Homo sapiens: one gene and its partners. The protein of the gene in region 1 binds, or shares a complex with, the protein of each later gene. Each region holds a gene or a part of one and is shown on either strand. Other genes may lie near its edges. The genes, in order: PHF10, SMARCA2 and SMARCA4.

What was found.
Region 2: PHF10 (region 1) and SMARCA2 share a complex: the UniProt entries of both Homo sapiens proteins name them as parts of the neural progenitors-specific chromatin remodeling complex.
Region 3: PHF10 (region 1) and SMARCA4 share a complex: the UniProt entries of both Homo sapiens proteins name them as parts of the neural progenitors-specific chromatin remodeling complex.

Annotation. Positions count from the first base shown.
Region 1 is NC_000006.12:169,721,478-169,728,693, forward strand, and holds the start of PHF10 (PHD finger protein 10), read right to left. Parts: upstream 3,024-7,216; 5' UTR 2,455-3,023; coding exon 2,368-2,454; intron 1-2,367. UniProt on the Homo sapiens protein: Involved in transcription activity regulation by chromatin remodeling. Belongs to the neural progenitors-specific chromatin remodeling complex (npBAF complex) and is required for the proliferation of neural progenitors.
Region 2 is NC_000009.12:2,053,252-2,060,358, forward strand, and holds part of SMARCA2 (SWI/SNF-related matrix-associated actin-dependent regulator of chromatin subfamily A member 2), read left to right. Parts: intron 1-1,345; coding exon 1,346-1,472; intron 1,473-3,420; coding exon 3,421-3,594; intron 3,595-5,039; coding exon 5,040-5,213; intron 5,214-7,107. UniProt on the Homo sapiens protein: ATPase involved in transcriptional activation and repression of select genes by chromatin remodeling (alteration of DNA-nucleosome topology).
Region 3 is NC_000019.10:11,055,005-11,062,111, reverse strand, and holds part of SMARCA4 (SWI/SNF-related matrix-associated actin-dependent regulator of chromatin subfamily A member 4), read right to left. Parts: intron 3,858-7,107; coding exon 3,749-3,857; intron 3,325-3,748; coding exon 3,223-3,324; intron 2,360-3,222; coding exon 2,227-2,359; intron 2,068-2,226; coding exon 1,925-2,067; intron 329-1,924; coding exon 296-328; 3' UTR 1-295. UniProt on the Homo sapiens protein: ATPase involved in transcriptional activation and repression of select genes by chromatin remodeling (alteration of DNA-nucleosome topology).

The DNA of each region.
Region 1 (7,216 bases):
ATAGGACTATTTTAATTGACTACTTTAGGCATTTATGTCCCTGTGAAAAGGGGACATATGAGACCGAAAACAATTCTAACTATTCACTCTTCCTCTTACACTGCTAAAATTTAGCAAAAATATACCCTAATAAGGGTCATCAATCTATAATATAGCAGCACACACACCAAAAAAAGAAGCTTGAGAGGGGGAGGGGAATTTTTTTTTTAAAGAAGATTATATATTTTTAATGTAATCCATTATGTGGCAAGAACATCAAGGTTATAAATTCAACCATTTCATTCAGAAAAAGTATCAGATGTTAGGAAATTGATTTATTTACTTATTAGCCAAGGCTTAAAGTCTAAAAATCATAATTTTTTAATGTAATATAGCTTTCAACGCTAATCCAATTTTGCTAAATACTATAGTCCTCTTGCTACATATTAAAATGAAAGCAATCCTGCAAAAGAATATAAAGAGGCAATATGGTATAGTGGCCAGGCATGCCAGAGCTGGACGGCCTGGGTTCTCACTGGGCACTGTCCCTCACTAGCTGAGTAGGTTATTCTCTGTGAGCATCTCCTTATCCGAAAATTTGAGACTATAATAGTGCCCCATTACATGGCTAATTCAATGATTAAACGAGCTACTATATTAAAAGTACTTAGAACAAGGACTGGCGAGTTATCTGATAAATATTAGTTAAAATGATGATTATGATGATAATAAAGTCTCAAATGTCTCTAGCTCCTAGGAATTAACTGGTTCTTTTCCAAATAGTAAAATATATATTCTTTTTCAGTCCTTATAAAATAAGCATTTCATTAAAGAGCTTTGCATAGTCTAAATCTACTCTCTGAAAATTTGCATAAGTATCTGCATACAACTGCAACACTGCATATTCAATACTTTCAACATAACTCATTTTAAACATTCCAGTATTTTTTCTATTTTACTGGTGAGCATTTTAAGGATTTTTATATCCTTAAACTTAAAAACATTTTCCTTTAGCTAAAAAGTTGAGACACTCAAAAATATACAAAAATAAAGTTAAAAATGCAAAGTGCTCAAAAAAGCTGAGACTACAATTTCATCAAGTGTTTTAAATTACTACTACAAATTCTAGGCAAAGGCATTATTATATAAAGTGAGCATCTGGGCAGCGGGCCTTTTTCTTGAGGGAGGTAGTAACAGCAATATTGTTCCCAATACATGACGGAATAAGGTAAGAATTTCCGTGTAACCGCAATACTGATACAGAGGCCCATGTTTTCAAAGACTCCCAAACATACTAAATCAGAGATGTGCCTTCCAGAGTTACAGGTGGTTTCCAACTACAGATCAGATGAATTTCTATGCATCACATCCTTCCTAGGGCTCAGGGGTCAAGAATGCACTCAGGGGGCACTGGCTCAGTGCCCTCCAGGTGCCGGGCCAGACGTCAAATGCTGGAAGTGCAAGGATGTGCATTCAGAGTCTTACAATCTAGTTACTTCCATTGACGACAGCCTTTGAGGAACCTTCAAAATGAGTCTCACAGCACGGTGGACGTGCGCAACGGGAAAAGCTCCCAAGCAGGCGCAGCCCGGCTAGGCTGCTACAGGACGGCTTCCCCTGCCAACGCGCACACGGCACACCGCGCACCGCACGAAGGCTGGCTGGCTCTGCAGCATTCCAGTTCCCACCGCCTTCTAATTTCAATCCAATTTCAAGCTTCCAGGCTTTTAAAACATCATTCCTCCCTTCCAACTTTCTGTCACAAACTGCTAGCCTAACTTTAGAACCAAAACGTTTTGATGCGTGACACTACTGCTCATCTCCATTTTCTCCACAAGCACCAATTTCTTTTCACCTCCTCAAGCAGTAAAAAGTTTTAACAGACTTCCGCTGAAAACATCCGGACGCTTGCGTATTAACTTAGTTATTACAGTAAGTTCACTGAGTGTGTTGATTTTCCATATCGTTCGCCACTCGGTTTTTGCAGTAAGCGTTCAAACACTTCGGCAAACTATGCGCGGAATGAACGCTGAGCGAACGCGCGCTTCTGCAGGCCCCTCCGAGGCCAACTCTCTCGGCCCCGGGCGCGTTCCGTCCCACGGCTGGCCTAGGAGGAGGCGTTTTGGGGACAAGCTTGTCAAGCAGGGCCGGCTGCCAACTTCGGGGAAGCCGCGCCGCGTCCCCCGCCCGCCCGCACTTGTTGCTCGCTAGAGGCCGCGGGCTCACCTCGGGGCCCCGCCTCGCCGACCACCCCCGGTCTCAGGCGCGGCGCCCGGCCTGGGCCCACGCCCCCGAGACGCTGGGCGGCCGCCGGTGGGACTGGGCCCACGCCCCGGCACCCAGGCCCGGGACGGGGTCAGGGTCGGGTCGCACCGGCCGCTTCCTCACCTTCGGGGACTGCGCTCCGGGGGTGGCTGGGTCGCTGTCGCACGGCCGCGGGGACAGCGCAGCCCCGGGCCCGGCCGCCGCCGCCATCAGCCCGAGCGCCCCGCGCCGCCGCCGCCGCCGTCGCCTCCGCCTTGTCCCGGCCGCCGCCGCCGCTGCCGCCGCCGCCGCCGCCGCCGCCGCGCGGGCCCCCCGCCGCCCCGGCCCCGCCCCCTCCGCCCGCCCGCCCGGGGGCCGGCCCCTGCCGCCGCGCGCCCCGCGGCCCGCCAGCGCCGCCGCCACCGCCATGGCCGTCGCCAGCGCGCCGCCCGCGCGGGAGGGCGCCAAAGGCTGGGAGGGCGCGGGGCTGCGGGCCGGAATGGAGGAGGCCCAGCGGCGGCGGCGCTTCTCACGTCAGCCCAACCCGCCCGGCCGCGGCCACCGCCTCAGCACCGTTGCCCCCCACAGCTCCGCCGCTGGCCTCAGCGCCGCCGCGACTCCCTTCAGCCCCGCCACTCGCTCGCCTCAGCCCCGCCGCTCGCTCGCCTCAGCCCCGCGGCCGCCTCAGCCCCGCCGCTCGCCTCAGCCCCGCCGCTCGCCTCAGCCCCGCCGCTCCCCTCAGCCCCGCGGCCGCCTCAGCCCCGCCGCCGCCTGGCTCCCCACGGCCCGGCGTTGTACTCGGCCGCGGCTCCCCCCAGCCCCCGGCGCGCCCCACCTCCCGCCCGCCCTCCGGCCCGCCCCGGCCCGGCACGTCGCCACTTGGCGCGCTCGCAGCCGCCCCCTCCCCGCGGCCCCCGGCCCGGCCCCTCCGCGCGTCACCCTCGTTCCCTCCCTCTCTCCGCGCCCCCGCCGCGCCCCTCCCCGCCCCTCCCGGGGGTCCCCGCCCCGCCCCCTCTCTGCCGGGGGTCGCCCTGCCCGGAGCAGTCGCGCGGAGACTGCGCGGCCTCCGCCTCTACGCGCTCGCGGTCGCCGCTCCTCTCCCGCCTTTGTTCTCGGGTCGCCCCTCTCGCTGGTGGCGCTCCGAGAGAGCAGCGGAGCCACCTGCCCAGGCCACGCTTCCCCGAGCATCCGCAGCTGCACCCGGGGGCTGTCGGCGCCCGCCCCGGAGCGTGCGGGAGGCACAGCGGGAAGAAGTCGCTGAGATTCGGCCCTCGTGGCTTTGCGTGCCCGCGTGGTTGATGCCTCCGCCGAGAACGCGGTCGGCCGGGAGCCGGGGAGGAGCGTGGACGCCGGCCTGGCAGGTACCCCCGCGAGAACGTGGGAGCCGGTGTATTTCAGCTGCATTTATTACTGATCTCGGGCTGCACCAGGGCACTTGTAGGACCGCACTAAAAACAGCGGAAAGTGAGGAGCCAAGCCTGGGTCCGGGGCGGCCCGCCGTACAGCTGGCCTCACGGATTCCACTGCCTGCGCCTGCAGATGACTTGTTCTGGAGAGTAGAGAATGTTCTCGGATTTAAAGTACAATCCGGTTTCCTTTCCATTCATTATAGTTGCCTACACTCAACAAACAAAAGTTGGGAAAGATAAAGGGATTATTCTAGCGCGTCACATTGACAAACACCGACGTTAACACGCTCAGTCCAGCCTGACTCACTTGCCTCAGGTCAGAGAGGTCACCACTGACGACGCCGGGCCCTCAAGCCGATCCTAATCCAGCTTGGTTCTCTCAGCCTCAGCCAGACCATCCGTTCTTGCCTCTGTCCCACCACGTGCAGGTGTAAGCTTCCGCCGCACTTCTTGTCTGAATCTGCCAAGAAGAAACTGCATCTTTCAGCTAAATTCTTTTCACTGATCAGGGTAGAGTTTAGCGGTTTTTTTTTTAAGAAAAAAAACAAAAACAAAAAAAAACTCTTAAGCTATTTGGTACTCCTCTCCCTCCGGGATTCTGTCTCTAGATTGTGAAAGCTGTCAGAGAATGGAGTCAGGGAAAGCCGTGATGGGAAAGTTCTCACTAATAATTGCCTGATATAAAGAATTAGCACAAAAGACTGCCAAAACCACAACCTTGCACAAAGGCCACAAAACTACACAAAAAAATGCTTCAAGGACATTTGCGCAGCAACTGCCTGTCCAACCTTGGACTGGCCATCCCCTTTGTTACTGATCTTTGTAGCCAAGGATAATTGTTTCAAAACAACTTACGTAATCCTCCTCGTTTTTCCTTTTAAACCCCTTATCTTCCTTTACCTCCCTGAATACACCTATAGTTTACTATGACACCATATTCTACATTGCAATGCCCACTTTCAAATAAATTTGTCATGTTTGGCAAACCTGTCTGTTATTTAGGTTGACAAGATCAAATGCAAATTTATTCTGGAGTCAACAAATAACTGATTCAGTCTTCCAATGTGCAAGGCAAAGAAGAATATTAAGGAGACACTGTATAGATTAGATCCCTGCCTATAGGCAGCTTCAACACTAATACAATATGGTACGAATATATAATTGTACTTTAAGGCAGCTTAGGTGGGAAAACAACTAGCAACTAAAAAAAAAAATGGAGTTTACTACCAACTAAAAAAAATGGAGGTTTCAAGGTTGACCTAGAATTTGAAAACTGCTTTAAAGACAGGTAAGAAAGACACAGGTAGATGTGCAATGGAAGTAGAAATTGGGTTTCAAGCCCCAAACAGGCTGAGGGGTGGGAAAATAGACATATTCAGGTACATCAATCGTTCCAGTTTGGCATAAGAATGAGATAAATGAAGATGGATTCTAGGAGTTAAGGATGAAATATGTAGGGAGGTACTATGATGTAATGGAGAGAACAAAGATTTCAAGTTAAGACTTTGGTTTAAATCCCAGCTGTGCCTCTTATTAGCTGTGTGATCAAAGGTAAATTAGTTAATCTCTCTGACCCTCCATTTCCTCATTTGTATGATAACAATAATGTCCAATTATTCCACAAATATTTTATGGCAAGCCAAGTATTAACTAAGAACTATGTTAAATGATGAAGATATAAAAAAACCATTTATTCATTCATTCATCAAATGAATGCCTTACTGTTTACTAAGTTACACCCTGAGTTAGGCCCTGGAAATACTGATAAGGGGGAAAAAAGCATGAAACCGTATGAGACCACTTAGATTATGCAGATATACGTGAAAATAAGGCCCAAGACCAAGAAGTCCAAAGGTACTCAACTTGTGGAAGTAAGATAGAGAAGGAAAAAAAAGAAAACTAAGTGTAAAGTACTGTAAACTGAAAGGAGAGAGTGTTTTAAAAGAGGGACTGGTCAGCTCTCCTAATGGAGAAGTTAGTAAGGTGGCAGAGAAGAATACATTGTATTTATCAACCTGGAGGTAATTAACTGTCTTGACTGTTTCAAGCTATTTCAGCAAAGTGGTGGTTTCAGAAACTAAATTAAAGCAGATTAAGGGAGGAATGGAAGCCTAGGAATTGGAGCCAGAGTATAGACAACTCTTCTGTGTAGTTTTATTATAAAAAGTAATGGAGAAAGAGAGTATCTGGAGAGGTGGTAGGGATGTTTTTAAGATGGAAGACATTAGCACATGTTGGTATACTGAAAAGAATGACTGAGTAGGAAGGCAGAAAACCATGATTGAGCAGAGAGAGGAAATGCTACTGGAAGGCAGCTTGTGAGAAGGCAAGGAAAAATGGGCTCCAGAGCACAGGTATTAGACAGGAAGCAGAATCCACCCAATTTAACAGGAAAGACAGAAGGTGGTCGCAGCTGCAAGCAGGTGAGTGGAAAACTTGAAGGTTTGTTTTTTTGTTTTTTTGTTTTTTTTTGAGACAGAGACTCACTCTGTTGCCCAGGTTGGAGTGCAGTGGCCTGATCTCGGCTCACTGCAAGCTCCACCTCCTGGGTTCACGCCATTCTCCTGCCTCAGCCTCCCAAGTAGCTGGGACTACAGGTGCCCGCTACCACACCTGGCTAATTTTTTGTATTTTTAGTAGAGACGGAGTTTCACCATGTTAGCCAGGATGGTCTCGATCTCCTGACCTCATGATCTGCCTGCCTCGGCCTCCCAAAGTGCTGGGATTACAGGCGTGAGCCACTGCACCCAGCCAACTTGAAGGATTTTTATTTCTGATATATTTTCTTTCCTTCATGAAATATAAAGGGAAAATCAGCTGACAGTTGTGTAGGGGAGAGAGATACAGAAGATCTGAGGAAGAAGGAGGTGTGTCAGCAGGAAAGCAAAGTTTCCAGGATGCCAAGTGTTTTGCCTTCTTGAGAGTTATGGTCATGAATTTAAAGTGAAACTACTCGGTCTGGCTTTGTCAGGTTCTCAGTCAAGTTTACCTACTTGGATTCAGGCTTGGACAAAGTGGATAATGGGGTTCATTCAGGAAGGGGTTTTCCAGGTGAGGAAGAGGGACAAAGAAATTGAAGTCTGTTTGTAAAGGAGTGATTATAATGATGAGCCATGATATCTAAGCTGGACAAGGTAGGAAATTTGAGGGCTATAAATGGTGAAAAAAGCCAATGAACTGGAGATTTCAATAAGATTAGAGAATGGCTGTCTTCGGGGTACTAGAGGTGGTGAGCTGGAAGGACAGGAAATGATTGCATGAGAATAACTTGCTTGAAATAAAGATTTCAGAAGTCATACTAATATTGGCGACAGCAAAGTCTAGAGGGGTAAAAGGCAACTGAATGTGAGTTGGTTAAGGAATTAGAAAGCATACAGCCAGTCCTAGCTTGGCATGGTAGAACATGACTAGAAAAATGACCATGGAAGTTGAAATTGTGCAAAGTGATCTTAATAATCAAAGAGAAAAATTAAAATTGTTCTGTGACACTTAAGAACTTTTGTTGAAACATCAAAAACTCTGTTACTGCTACGTAGACATATCAGGAATTTTTTAAATTGTAAAACTAATTTATTTAGTATGCC
Region 2 (7,107 bases), on another chromosome or scaffold:
TGCTTAGGATAATGGCCTCCAGCTGCATCCATGTTGCTGCAAAGGACATGATTTGGTTCTTTTTTATGGCTGTGCATAATTTTTAACAGAATTCTTAATTTTCAGCTTTTATAGTTGAGGTCCAGGAAGGTTCTCGGAAAGTGTATCTTAATTATCTATCATTTTATTGCAGTGGTTTTGGTATCAGGCAAATTGAGGTTCCAATCTTGGCCCCCTTCTTTACTAGCTCTGTGGTATCTCCAGGTGTCTTCAGTTTTCCTCATCAGCAAAATGGGACCATTATAACTTTTACCTTACAGAGGCGTGTCTGTGTGTGTAAGAGAGAGACAATTAAATAACATTGTACATTAAAGGCACTTAGTGCTGTTAATATTAGCCTACTTTAACTTATTACTTATTATTATTCTTTCTTTGTTGAAATCTAGTTCAGTACAGTTTGCCTCAGATTTAGGGGATGTAGTTCTAAAAATAGTCTTAAATGGCATATAATTATTTTGTCAGAATAGGATTCAGGTGAACTCTAAAACCAGCAGTTTATATATCTAACAGTAATAGTATCCCAAGTGAATGGCTAAAGTCAGAGGTCTTTTATTTTCTACTCTGCCTTTATTATGAAGAAGTACATGCAGTTATATTTTTGATGGTGTGTAAAACGAGAATCCTCAACATCCTTTTCTAGAAACTCTTGGTTTTTGAGTACTATTTACTGCTGGCCCTGATTTTTTTAAAACAGCCTCATTTGTATTTTCTTTTCTCAAGCAAGCTCTGCTCACAGAGGAAGTGGTTGTGGCTGGCAGAGCGCTTTCTGAATGTTTAGGGTTGGCTGATTTCTGTGGCATCAGCACCTAAAACTGTTCTTGCTCACTGCGCTTTAATGGCTGTCGTCATCAGCATCTTGGCAAAGAAGACAAATGGTCTGGTTGCCTTAGGACAGAACTAGAAGTTCGGAAGAAAAAAGTCTGTGCTCTCAGCTCTGCATTCTGTCTGGCTGGGAGTTAGAAAGCTTGTCAATTGGTTCTGTCTCTTATATTCTCTCTCTGCTAAGAGTGAGCAAGGACATTTGACTTCCCCACTAGATGCAGGGTGAACCTTCTTTCCCTAGTGTTAGATAGAGGTTATGGAGGAAGCCACATTGTTAAGTAACATATACCTGTCTGCATTAATGCAAAGGTAGCTTTTCTCTGCTTAACATCAAAAATTCTAGTTGGGTGTTAGAGATCAACTATCAGTATCTGGAATATGTTTTGCCCCGGACTTAAACCTAATGTCATTGTTTATCATTTAAGATTAAATTGTAATGTGTTTTTCCCCTGCCCCCTTTTCCCCATTTTATTGTTTCCTTTAGACTTCAGGCCCGCATAGCTCATAGGATACAAGAACTGGAAAATCTGCCTGGCTCTTTGCCACCAGATTTAAGAACCAAAGCAACCGTGGAACTAAAAGCACTTCGGTTACTCAATTTCCAGCGTCAGGTAATACATTTTCCCCAGTGAATCTGAGATGTAGGAAATAAATGTAATTGTTCCTAAAGTGTTATCTGTGTTGCCTTTAGTCTATTCAATATTGTTACAAAGATATAAAGATATAAATATAGTAAAATAGTGAATCTTTTAGACCAACAGCTTACAACTAAAAATGATGAAGATGAACTGCTTATTATTCTGGTTTTCTCTTCTGTATATGGGAAAGAGTTTTTCCTCCTGTACTATGGGTTACAAAGTCAGAGTTATGGCGTTTTGTTACCATGGATGAAAAACCTTGGGAACAAGTGGGGTAGCTCATGTTTGCTTTTATGACTCCAAGGAAAAACCAGAAGGTAGTGGATTGGAGCTTCTTTGTAAGCACAGATGTAAAGTGCTTGCCACGACTGTGAAAATAATTTTAACAAATATGGTAGCCACGCTACTGAATTAGTGGTTCATCATTTATAGAAATACATAAAGCAATGTCTTATAGCTTATTTATTCACCGATGTCTAAGTTTGGAGTGTTTGATCACATCAGGCTCATGTATTGACTAATCAGTAAATTATCTGCTCTTGTAGTTTACAGCAGTTATTAAAAGCCAGTATAATGACCTATTTTCTGATTTCTAAATTAGTAAGAGACAAGTGGAATGAGTTAGAGCTAATTTTCACTTTGGCGAGTTTTGCCTTGTGGACTGAAAAGGTTCAAGTTTGCTAGTCCGCAGATTGCCTCACTAACCCAAAGGGGATAAGGAACGTTTCATTGTTAGTCAGATGGGTTTGTTTTGTTAAAGTCTGGAACATGCGAAATGAATAATTAATGAGTCAAAGTAGTTTGGAAGTATTGACTTGGTTTGTTGGAGGATGTGACTAAAATCACAGGCCACTCCAGTTGCTATTGTGGTAGGAATTTGGGTGTATATTTGCCTTACCGGCTATAATCTCACAGATGGACATTAGTGGTGGGTAGGTGCTACTTGGCTCTTGGTTTGTGAGAGTAGATTTCAGCTTAAATTTTAAAAAGAAAAGGGAAAATTCTCTGAGTTCTGTTTACTTCTTTCTTATTGGTGACCTCATAAGATGAATTAATAAAGTGCTGGATAAAATCTTACTAAATGAATATTAACCAAGTATATTTTCCGGAATATGTTTATGTTCAAATTAGCGTTGCCATGACGGACTCTTATTGATTTCTGATTTTTGTTTGATATTATTTTAAAAATCTGTTATTTATGAAGCTTCCTAATTAAATTAACTGTAACTAATGATATTTCAGATGCAGTGGAATGATTATTTAATGTGTATTCTCCAGTCCCTACCCCCTACCACCACATAACATGCAATACAGATAAAAGTATTACATTTGTGATCTGAAATAAGTTCATGATATAATATAAAATGTAGATCTCTTGGAAAGAAGATCATTATTGGAGTGGGAAGAAGCCAAAACTCATATTTCCCATCCTTTGTATGAGACTATGAATTAACGTTGTTTGAGTACCTGCTGCTACCACACGTGAAAGTAATTCTTTTATTCTTTTTTTGGAGCATCATTAAAATTAATCTTTAAACACAAAGAGAATGTTAACATGACACTTAAAACAAAGCGGAAAATTTAAAAAGCTTATTTAGCTAATTGGTATCATTAGAATAATTAGAGAAAATGAAGTTATTTAAAAGGCAAGACAACATCTTTTCTTTCTTTTACTGTTACAGTACTATAATTGCTTTTGATTTGAATTATTTGGGGAGAAAAATCTTGTACCGTTCTTGAAAATATTGCATACATTTGGCATGATTTTAGTTCCTTCATTTAATACAAACCAAAGGTGATTGAGAAGCTTGTGGAGATTCCCCGCCCCACTCTATTCCATTAAATGCAACCGCGAGAAGGCCAGAGTTCAGGAACCTAGCTTCTGTTAGGGAAGGCTGTCTAACTGCTCTCTTCTTGACAGCTGAGACAGGAGGTGGTGGCCTGCATGCGCAGGGACACGACCCTGGAGACGGCTCTCAACTCCAAAGCATACAAACGGAGCAAGCGCCAGACTCTGAGAGAAGCTCGCATGACCGAGAAGCTGGAGAAGCAGCAGAAGATTGAGCAGGAGAGGAAACGCCGTCAGAAACACCAGGTTCTTAGACCCTGGGCTTTGCTCACCCTCACTTTGGCAGAGCTGTCCAATGAATTCATCAAATGGGGTCAGAATGACTGAAAAATGGACCCTTGTGGGTGGTGGGGACATCACAGAACAGAACGGTTCCTTGACATGTACATAATCCAACCACATCATTTTATAGACAAAGACGCTTAAGCCAGGACGTATAAATGACTGCCCAAGGTCATACAATTGCTTAGCAGCACAATGAGGTTTAGTATTGTCTTAGTTTGTCTGGGCTGCTATAAAAAAATAGCACAAACTGGGTGGTTGATGAGCAACAGAAGTTTATTTTTCACCGTTCTGGAGGCTGGAAGCCTGAGATCAGGGTACTAGCATGGCTGGGCTCTGGTGAGGGTCTTCTTCTGGGTTGCAAACTGTTAACTTCTCCTTGTTTTCTTACGTGGTGGAAGCAGGCCAAGAAAGCTCTCCGGGCTTCCTTTATAAGGGCACTAATCCCATTCGTAAGGGCTCTACCCTCATGACCTTATCACCTCCCGAAGACCCCACCTCCTAATACCATTACATTGGGAGTTAGCATTTCAATATATAAATTTTGGGAGGACACAAACATTCAGTCCATAACAGGTGTCATGTTCATAATCCCATGGGAAGTTTTTGAATGGGTGGGCATAGGTGGATTTCCTAGAGCAAAATTCTGGGAGCAGGAACTTGGAAAAGGAAAGTAGAAAGCAAAAAGTTATTTTCATAACAAATATAATAGTGTCCTGGCTTCTCTGAAGGGCCTAGTTGAATGTTTCACAGAGGCAAATATTAAAAACATTCCTTTCTGGGGGTTTGGAAATATTTTGATGTAGGATTTGATTTCCTGTCATAGTCCTGTAAATTGTATTTGTTTTCCTGTGCTTAATTTAGTGCTTAGCTTAGTTTCCTTTTGAAAAAATGTTGGATTTTAGTGTAAATAGAGTATATATTTAAAAAGTGGATACAAATTCTGCATGGCAATTTTAACTTTGTATAAACTTATTTTGTGTCATACTCTAGGGTAGTTAGAGCAGAAAAACATTACTTTTGTGACATACTTTTTGCTGGAAATACTCATGTTCCTCAGGTTTATTTTGGAGTGAATGAGTGGTTTGCTTTACATTTTATCATTGCCATTTTGTAGGTCTCTTTCAGTCTTCGATCTTTCCATTCTCATGTGGCCACACCCTCAAGGCTAAGGAGGCTTCTCTTGCTAAAGCTTACAACAAAAGGAACCCGAAGAGGCTATCTTTCCCACCAGCCCCATGGCCCACACCTTAACTGCAGAGACACCAGGGCACCTATCCCCAAACAGATTCTAGTCTTCCTATGCTGTTAAACACACACTGAGAGTTTTCTTGGACAACACTGATAGCTCAGAGGACACTGGTCATTGGATTTTAAGTATCCTTTTCTTCCCTTTTTGGATCTTCTAGGAATACCTGAACAGTATTTTGCAACATGCAAAAGATTTTAAGGAATATCATCGGTCTGTGGCCGGAAAGATCCAGAAGCTCTCCAAAGCAGTGGCAACTTGGCATGCCAACACTGAAAGAGAGCAGAAGAAGGAGACAGAGCGGATTGAAAAGGAGAGAATGCGGCGACTGATGGTAAGGAACTCCCTGCAGGAGCCCAGGAAACTACTCAACCCACGTCCGTCTGCAATGAGACCATTAAATATGGTGGTAGTAGAAGGAAAAAATGAAAACTGCTTATCAAAAATTTTAGTAAATTTCTTTGAACCTTAGGGAGATGAAGTAAAAACTTTTTCTCTTTCCTGGAGAATGCATGCCAAAAATCTAGGGGGATGACTGATGCGTATAGTATTTCTGTGTCCTGGGGTGGCATTGCGCGGTACACATTACAGCTTCTCTCATAAAAGCAGGTACTGTATTTTGCATGAGTTTGATAACCAGATCTGGAAGGATGGCAAATGCAGTTCTTTTAAAAATATGGCCTCTTTGAGATGAATGACCACGTTTTTTGGAATGAATAACACATTAAGTCGTGTCTTCAAATCTAAGAAGGTCTGTGTTTTGAAGCCTCTGGTGCTTATCTTTCTTTTTTAATGGCAGAAATTATTCTCTAACAGTGTAATAAGTGATTTTTAAGTTGATTTTGAAATGTTGCCTTTTTTGTGATAGCCTTGTTATGGTCAAAGGCTATTCATGGATTATTACATTTGCACTGTTATTTTTTAATGGGCATATAAGCACAGAAGAGATAGGTTTATATCATTGGCCTGAGTATTTGTTTTTATTGACCATTTATTTTTGGAATTGGACCTCAGAGCACACTGTGGATTTTAGAAAAGCGTGTGTGTGTGTGATGTTATAATTATAGGAGACCTGCAGATTCTATCTAGGACGTAATGCCTGCATAGATGAAGATAAGGTCATTAGTCTCAGACCATAATTATGTTCCTGGAAAATTCTAAGTGACACTGTCTTCCTGGCTGGTATTACAGTTTGCATTTTTTTCATTTTTTGGATTCCAGAGAGTAAACACCATGTTTTAAAAGCCTCTGTGTGCAGGTACTACTACATCTTACTACCCTATCCTGCCTCCCTCTCCATACCAGGGAGAGAGGACTGTCCGAGAGGTTTCTGACTAGACCGTTTTTGTAGTAATTTGATCACTAAGCAGTCAAATTTGTCTGACTCAACTGAAGTGAAACTATATTAGAACTTCAGTAACAGATTGGTTTGACACTAATGATTAGGCATTTGCAAATCATTAATTTTTGCAATTAAGTGATGGAATATACAGATAATAGAGAAACTGAAGTTTTTTATCACTCTTTCTTCAAGTGAGTTCAACCATAACCGAAAGCAATTAGAGTTATAATAGCATTTGAGGCTCTTGCTCATCCACAGGGCAGACGGCAGCTAGACTGAGTGATGAAGCTGCTGTCACTCAGGCAGATGCTAGAGTGACACCCCTGGACAAAAGATCCCAAGTTTTTGTTTTTGTTTTTGCAATGGAGTTGCCTCTTAAAGATTTTGCAGCTTGCTCCTTTTATCGTGGCATTACATGATAAAAATAATTTGGAGTGTCCTTTTATTGGGATACACAAAGAGATTTCTCTCAAAATGGCTTAGAGTACATCAGAGTTTTATTCTGTTTAACCTCATCATGTTGCTTAATGGGAGGTGGAGGTGGGAATTACTGTATCTATTTTATTGCTCAGCAGTACCAGACTTCAGGTGCTAAGTGACTTGTCTCCAGTCACCTGGGCCCATTACTCAGTGCAGATCTGTGGCCAAAAAAAAAAAAAAAAAAAAAAAAAAAAAAAATCCCCCAAATTTGATCTTTCCTGTTAACCACAAAGTTTGTAATGCCAAAAAGAAAGACTTTTTAAAATATAAGACATTATTTGTTAAAAGCCCATTTGATTCCTTGCCTTTAGTAGTACTTTTTGAAATATTTATGAATGAAAGGATATTATGTCTGGAATTTGCTTCAAGACAATTCAGTTTGGGTTTAGAAGAAGAGTAGCAATGA
Region 3 (7,107 bases), on another chromosome or scaffold:
CAACAGTACTGCCAGCAACGGAAAAGAAAAACAGGTATCGTGTGTTCCCCAATTCGGAATTCTCTCTCTCTCTCTTTAAGACAGTTAATGCTGTTACAGATGCTACTGATGCCAGGACAGGGCCAGTCACAAACAGTCCTACAGCTTCTCTGCTGTATAAATATGGAAGATTCTTTTGTTTATACAGTTTTACTCCAAGTCTGAAACTACATCTGCTGCTACCCGTTACTGCTAAGGCCTATGCCATCTCAGCTCTGGAACGAGGGGCTCGGGGTCGAGACTGGAATGTCGGGGCTCAGTCTTCTTCGCTGCCACTTCCTGAGCGGTCCTGGAGAGGGGACAGGAGGAGAGAGTGTGCGTTGGCCACCCCTGCCAGGGCACCTTGCCAGGGACCTGCCAAACTTTAAATAAACTTGCTCAAGAAAACACTGATGTGGGCCGGGCACGGTGGCTCACGCCCGTAATCCCAGCACTTTGGAAGGCCAAGGCGGGCGGATCACGAGGTCAGGAGATCGAGACCATCCTGGCTAACACGGTGAAACCCCGTCTCTACTAAAAAATACAAAAAATTAGCCGGGCGTGGTGGCGGGCGCCTGTAGTCCCAGCTACTTGGGAGGCTGAGGCAGGAGAATGGCGCGATCCCGGGGGGTGGAGCTTGCAGTGAGCCGAGATGGCGCCATGGCCATGCCCAAACTTCATGTTTCTCTACAGGACGAGTCCCTGTGACCACACTCGGCCCTCTCGGGACCTTCGAGGCTCCACGTGCCTTCCCTGCTCTGTCCCATGTCACCTGCCTGGCCCTTGGCCCCTGACCTACAGCTTCCAAACCATCTTGGTTCTTCCTGACTGTGAAAGATCTTTGCTCTTTCATATATATATATATATATATATATATATATATATATATTTTTTTTTTTTTTTTTAAAGACAGGGTCTTGCTCTGTTGCCCAGGCTGGAGTGCAGTGGTGCTATCACGGCTCACTGCAGCCTCGACCTCCCAGGCTCAAGTGAGCCTCCTGCCTCAGTTTCCCAAAGTGCTGGGATTACAGGTGTGAGCCACTGGACCTGGCCTCATAAAACCTTTTTAAACAGCCTGGCATGGGCCATAAAACACCCTGCTCTGGATTAGGCAAGAGAGACAGCATCACAGCCCAGACCCTCCTGCCTGACACAGGGGCCTCCCCTCCACATGAGGACTTCATGAATGTCCTCAAACGTCACGTGCGTCTTTCGTCAGACTAATTCCCAGGCACTGAAATTTGCTGCTTCTGTGATGACAAAATGGCATTCGCTGGGCTTCAGCGGGAGCCAGGCCCTTCGGTGGGGGCAGCCCCCTAATCCATGCAGCCTCCTTGCTTTGCATAAGAGGAAACTGAAGCTTGAGAAGCAAAGTGACCTGCCAGGTCCCACAGCCAGGAAGGGCCAGAGACAGAGGTGAGATTATTTAAAGCCAGCAAGTGGATCTTCTCCGGCTCCCCACTGCACCCCAAAAACTATCCACTGTGGTCTTGGCGTTTCTGCCCATTCTCTATGCCACTGAGGAGACGGGGCACTGTCTGGTGGGTCCCCAATCCTAGCACCTCCTACCCAACCCTAATCAAGCCCTGGCCTGCCCGGCCTCAGCCCAGGAGCCCTGGTGCCCTGGGACCGCCTGCTGCCTGTCCTGAGGACTCACGTGTCCCCCAGTCCCCAGACACCCACGGGTACTGAGAGCTGGTTCCGGGGTCACACAGGCTTGGCTTTGAGTGGCAGCCCTGCCACATACTGGCTGTGTGACCTGGGGTCAGCCATGGCAGGTCAAGCCTCAGCTTTCCCACCTGCAGCGTGGGGGCGTGGGAGCACCGCCCCACAGGGCTGTCCCATCAGGGCCCCGGGATGCCTCCTGCCACATGCCAGCTCTGCCTGCTCGGGGGCCCGGCCTCACCTCCTCTTGTTCCTCCTCACTGTCATCGTCACTCACGACCGGCTTGGCTCGGGACCCTCGGCTCGGCCGCCGCCGGCCGCCCTTCAGCCGGTCCTGTGCCTTCTCCTTCCGGCCAAGCTTGATCTTCACTTTGACGGACCGAGCTGGAGGGGACCGGGAGGGAAAGACAGCCTTGAGCTCTGGGAATGCAGCACCCCCACAGCAAGGGGCGTCTGGGAGCCGGGAGGGCTGTGAAAAGCTGGGGCCTTGGGGGCTCTCGGGCCAGCGTGAACCCCGGCGTCCTGAACCCCCCCGGGACTCACATTCGGATTCGGAGCCTTCCTCCTCGCCCTCTTCCTCCTCCTCACTCTCCTCGCCTTCACTGTCATCCTCCTTCTCGATTTTCTGCCGCACGCTGGTGAAGACCGACTGCAAGACGATGGAGTCTTCATAGATCTGGGCAGAGACACCAGGGGCTTGAGTGGATGGGCCCGACTGGAGGGCTGCCTGCCCGGCCCTGGCCCCAGCCCCAGCCCCAGCCCTGTGTTGCCCCTGGACAGCTGATCAGTGGCCAATGCGAGCCTCAGCGGGTCGGGGCTTCAGCCCACCCAGGGTGGAAGGCCCTCTCCATAATCTTCCTCCATAGGGGCCCGAGCATCAGACTTCTGAAATGCTCCAGGGTGAAAGGTCAGGCACACTGGTTTGGGAATAGCTGCAGGTGCCTCCCTCCTTCTGCACAATCTCTGAGGTCTGCAATAACATTGGAAATACATGCCCCTTGTTGAAGCCAGCATCTTTCCCAAACTCATCAAAGTCAAGTCTTTTTTCTGAGAGGAATCAATCCCAAAGACACTTAAGAAAGTTTGCCAAGTTGAGGCTGTGTATGTGTCAATTCTATCACAGGAAAGAACAAACCCACAGGATTCCTTTGAAGAGAATGTGCCCCAGGGAATTTAAAATAAAATTCCAACAGACAGAGGACTCTGAGTCTATTTCTTCTGTTGTGCCTATCTTTATTTTCTTCGGTAAATACATACTGCTTTTGTAATTGCTAAAATATCCCAAGTTGGAAATTTTTAATTTTTTCTTTTTTTTTTTTAAAGACAGGGTCTTGTTATGTTGCCCAGGCTGGTCGTGAACTCCTGGTCTCAAGTGATCCTCCCGCCTTGGCCTCCCAAAGTGCTGGGATTACAGGCACGAACCACCACAGCTAGCGGGACTTGTTTTTAACCCATCAATTCAGAAGGGAAGGAGGGGCGGGTTGGGTCAAAGCCCAGCTGTGGGAGTGGCCCATCCCCAACCCCCAGCGGTGCCCTCACCAGGGAGCCCTCCAGGTTGAAGGTCTGTGCGTTCTGGCACAGGAGCATGACGTCCTTCTCTAGGTCGTTGAGGCTGCGGTACTTGTGGTTGCGAATGCGCTCCTGCAGTGGACGGGAGGAGCAGGTCTTACCTCAGGACCCCGCCTCGCCTGCCCGCAGGCCTGGCTGTGTGCTGGAGACCCCACGGGCTAGGATTCCTCGTGCCTATGAGGATGTGGCCGAAGCGCCAGCCTCGGTAACCTGGCTCACTAGGCATGGGAACTGCATGACTGAGGCCCAGCACTAAGTGAGTGGGACCTTGAAGGAACACCCAACACCGACTGCCCACTGACATCCCTCAGGACACCCCCAACCCTTACAAGGAACCCCAAAAGCCCACGACCAGGTCCCTAACCAGGTAGCCCAAGGCACCGCCTAGGTGGTTTCTGGTCATTCTGCCCACACACCACAGCTCTCAGATGGGGGTGCCCCTGGGTCAGACTCCCCTCCGGGCACATGCGGGGCGCAGGTACAACGTCAGGGTTACCTTTATCTTCTTGAAGTCCACGGGCTTGCGGATGAGCTCGTAGTACTCGGGCAGCTCCTTTCGCGAGGGCAGCTGGATGAAGACCTCGCTGAGCTGACGTCCACTGCTGCTGCAAGGCAGAACCGGCGGCTATCACCCCCGAGTCCGCCCACCCGGGAGCCCCCACCCCACCTCAGCAGGTTCCCACATTGTTTAAGGATGAGAAATTCCAACTCAGCTCAGGAGCTATTTCTTGCACATGCGCTTTTTTTTTTTTTGAGACGGAGTTTCGCTCTTGCTGCCCAGGCTGGAGTGCAATGGTGCGATCTCGGCTCACTGCAACCTCCACCTCCCAGGTTCAGGAGATTCTCCTGCCTCAGCCTTTGGAGTCACTGGGATTTTTTACAGTCGTGCACCACCATGCCAGGCTAATTTTGTATTTTTAGTAGAGACAGGGTTTCTCCATGTTGGTCAGACTGGTCTCAAACTCCCGACCTCAGGTGATCAGCCCGCCTCAGCATCCCAAAGTGCTGGGATTACAGGTGTGAGCCACCATGCCTGGCCTGCACATGTGCTTTCTTGTAGCTTCTGGAACATTTCCCAGAGACAACCACACAAACAGGCCTGTGATACATTTTTTTGTTTTTTGTTTTTTTTGAGACAGAGTCTTGTTCTGTCGCCAGACTGGAGCGCAATGGAATGATCTCGGCTCACTGCAACCTCTGCCTCCTGGGCTCAAGCAATTCTCCTGCCTCAGCCTCCCGAGTAGCTGGGATTACAGATGCCAGCCACCACACCCGGCTAATTTTTGTATTTTTAGTAGAGACAGGGTTTCACCATGTTGGTCAGGATGGTCTCGATCTCTTGACCTCGTGATCTGCCTGCCTTGGCCTCCCGAAGTGCTGGGATTAGAGGCAGAAGCCACTGCAGCCGGCCTGGGATGCATCTGGATCTCTGCTCTGTCCTCACTGGGGACTGATCTAACCCCCTGAACACCACAGGAAGCGCCCTTGTGCACTCGGTACAGCGGCAGTGATGAGATGCTGCCAGGCCTCGTGCACAGCGCTCCCAGCTCTTACCCATACCTGAGCCTGGCTCAGCAGGACAGGGTGGGTGGGGACAGAAGCTCTGAGAGCTGACCTTGCTCTGACAGAACCCAGCCCGCAGGCTGGGAAAATGAGAACGCATGGCAAACGCGCTCTCCTCTCTGCTTTGGCCCAGAGGAAGGGCCTAGCCAGGGAACGGCCCCAAGCAGGGAGCCACCAGGCGGACGAAGCCTAAAAGTGGCCAACGGGGCCTGATGGGAAGGAGGAGCTGAGCTTGGGTCCTGATAACTCCAGCTGCCTCATCAGCACCGCTTCTTTCCTTATGTTCTTTCCCAGAAAATTCCAGAGGGCAGGGCAGCCCGCCCATGCCACTGGCTGGCCCCGCCGTCTGTTTGGGTGTCCTGAGTGCGCCTTGTCTTGCTTCTGTTTACCACGCTGGAAAATGGCAGCGACAACATGGTGGCTTCCCTGGTTCTGTTGCTGGGGTCCTGATGTCACCAAGGGGCAGACGGGCCAGGCTTGCCTCCAGGAAGCTGCTCGTGAGCAGGATCCCGGAAGGCCTCCTGCTTGTTTGGTGTTTGTGTGCATCACGAAGCCCCTGACCCAGCTTCTAACATGAGAGCCTCCTGAGATGCAGACGTTACACACGGGAGCCAGAATCCTGTCCCTGCACCTCCCCTGGCCTTGACAACCGCCATCATCCCCTGCTTGCTGGGCCAGCCACACTTTACACACACTAAACTCTGAAGCAGGCACCAGTGCCAGGCCAGCCGTGCTGAGGAGGAAATTGAGGTGGGAGTGAATCTCCTGGCCTGGACACAGCCCGCCTTGAGCCTCTGCCTTCCAGGAGTGTCCTTCCCCAACGTGTGTTCATGAAGTACATCTCCCCATCTCCTGCCAGGAGGTGTTTTTGGTCCTGGGTGTGGGACCAGCCGGTCCAGCATGGGAGCACATACCCTTCTCAGACTGCATTCCCATCGTGGGCCCTCCCTGGAGGCACAGGCTTCCTTTTTCCTATGAGCGGGCTGGTGGCCGGCTCTGCCACAGGCAACTGTTGGTAAACCCAGTCCACAGGCTCAGAAAATAAGAACACACAGTGGATGCGCTTGCTGCTCGGTGACCCTGGAGAAAGACACGACTCCCCTCTGAGTCGGGAAATGTGTGTCCCATCTGCAGCTCGGGCAGAGCGGGCCTGTACCTCTTCCCTCTCCTAAGCCGGCACATCCTGTTCTCCACTCTACGGAATTTTATAAGCAAAGAGCTCTCCTCTCTCTTCATGATGGCAGCATCCACCCTATACCTGTTACAATAAGGCACAGCAAGAGTTGCGCTTTACACTGTGAAGCAGGACGTGCAGCACAGGCAGGGGCAACAGAAGAACCCCAATGCGATAGTCTCTTCTATGAAAAGCAGCGCGCTTTGCCATTTTCCATTCTATTACATTTTTAAAGATATGGTGGCTCGTGCCTGTAATCCCAGCACTTTGGGAGGCCAACGTGGGAGGATTGCTTGAGCCCAGGAGTTTGAGACCAGCCTGGACAACATGGCAAAACCCCATTTCTATTTGACTGGGGGAAAAAAAAGCCAGTTTTGTGATCCATTCAATGCCCTTAGTGGCCAGCAAACAGTGCAGACTCTTGGCTTGAAACGCCCTGCCCTGTGGCCATGGGGGGCTTACTGCACACTGTGGCCCTTGCCCTGGAGGGCGGCTCCCTATGCAGAGAGCCCAGGAAGTGAGACCCCAGGGCTGTGACAGCAGAAGGCTTTATAATAAGCACCCCACCACCCCAACAGCCACCTCCATCAGGCTAATGAGAAACAGCTACAGGCAGCAAAAAAAAAACAAGGTGCGGCTGGGCGCAGTGGCTCACGCCTGTAACCCCAGAACTTTGGGAGGCTGAGGTGGGTGGATCACGAAGTCCGGAGTTCAAGACCAGCCTGGCCAAGATAGTGATACCCCGTCTCTACTAAAAATACAAAAATGAGCCAGGCGTGGTGACAGGCACCTGCAATCCCAGCTACTCGGGAGGCTGAGGCAGGAGAATCACCTGAACCTGGGTGGCAGAGGTTGCAGTGAGCCGAGATCGCACCACTGCATTCTAGCCTGGGCGACAGAGTGAGACTCTGTCTCAAAAAACAAACAAAAACAAAACACAAAACCAAGGTACAAGAGCACCCCTTCCCAGACCTCTAGGAGAATTACGTTCTGGATGAATCAAGACCACCCAGTTGCCGGTCTGAGGATTCCGCTCTGGTGCAGAGTTCCCTGGAGGTCCTGTCCTCAGGCTTCCCTGCAACAGGCAGGGTGCTGAGAGCCTCCCTCACCTCTATATT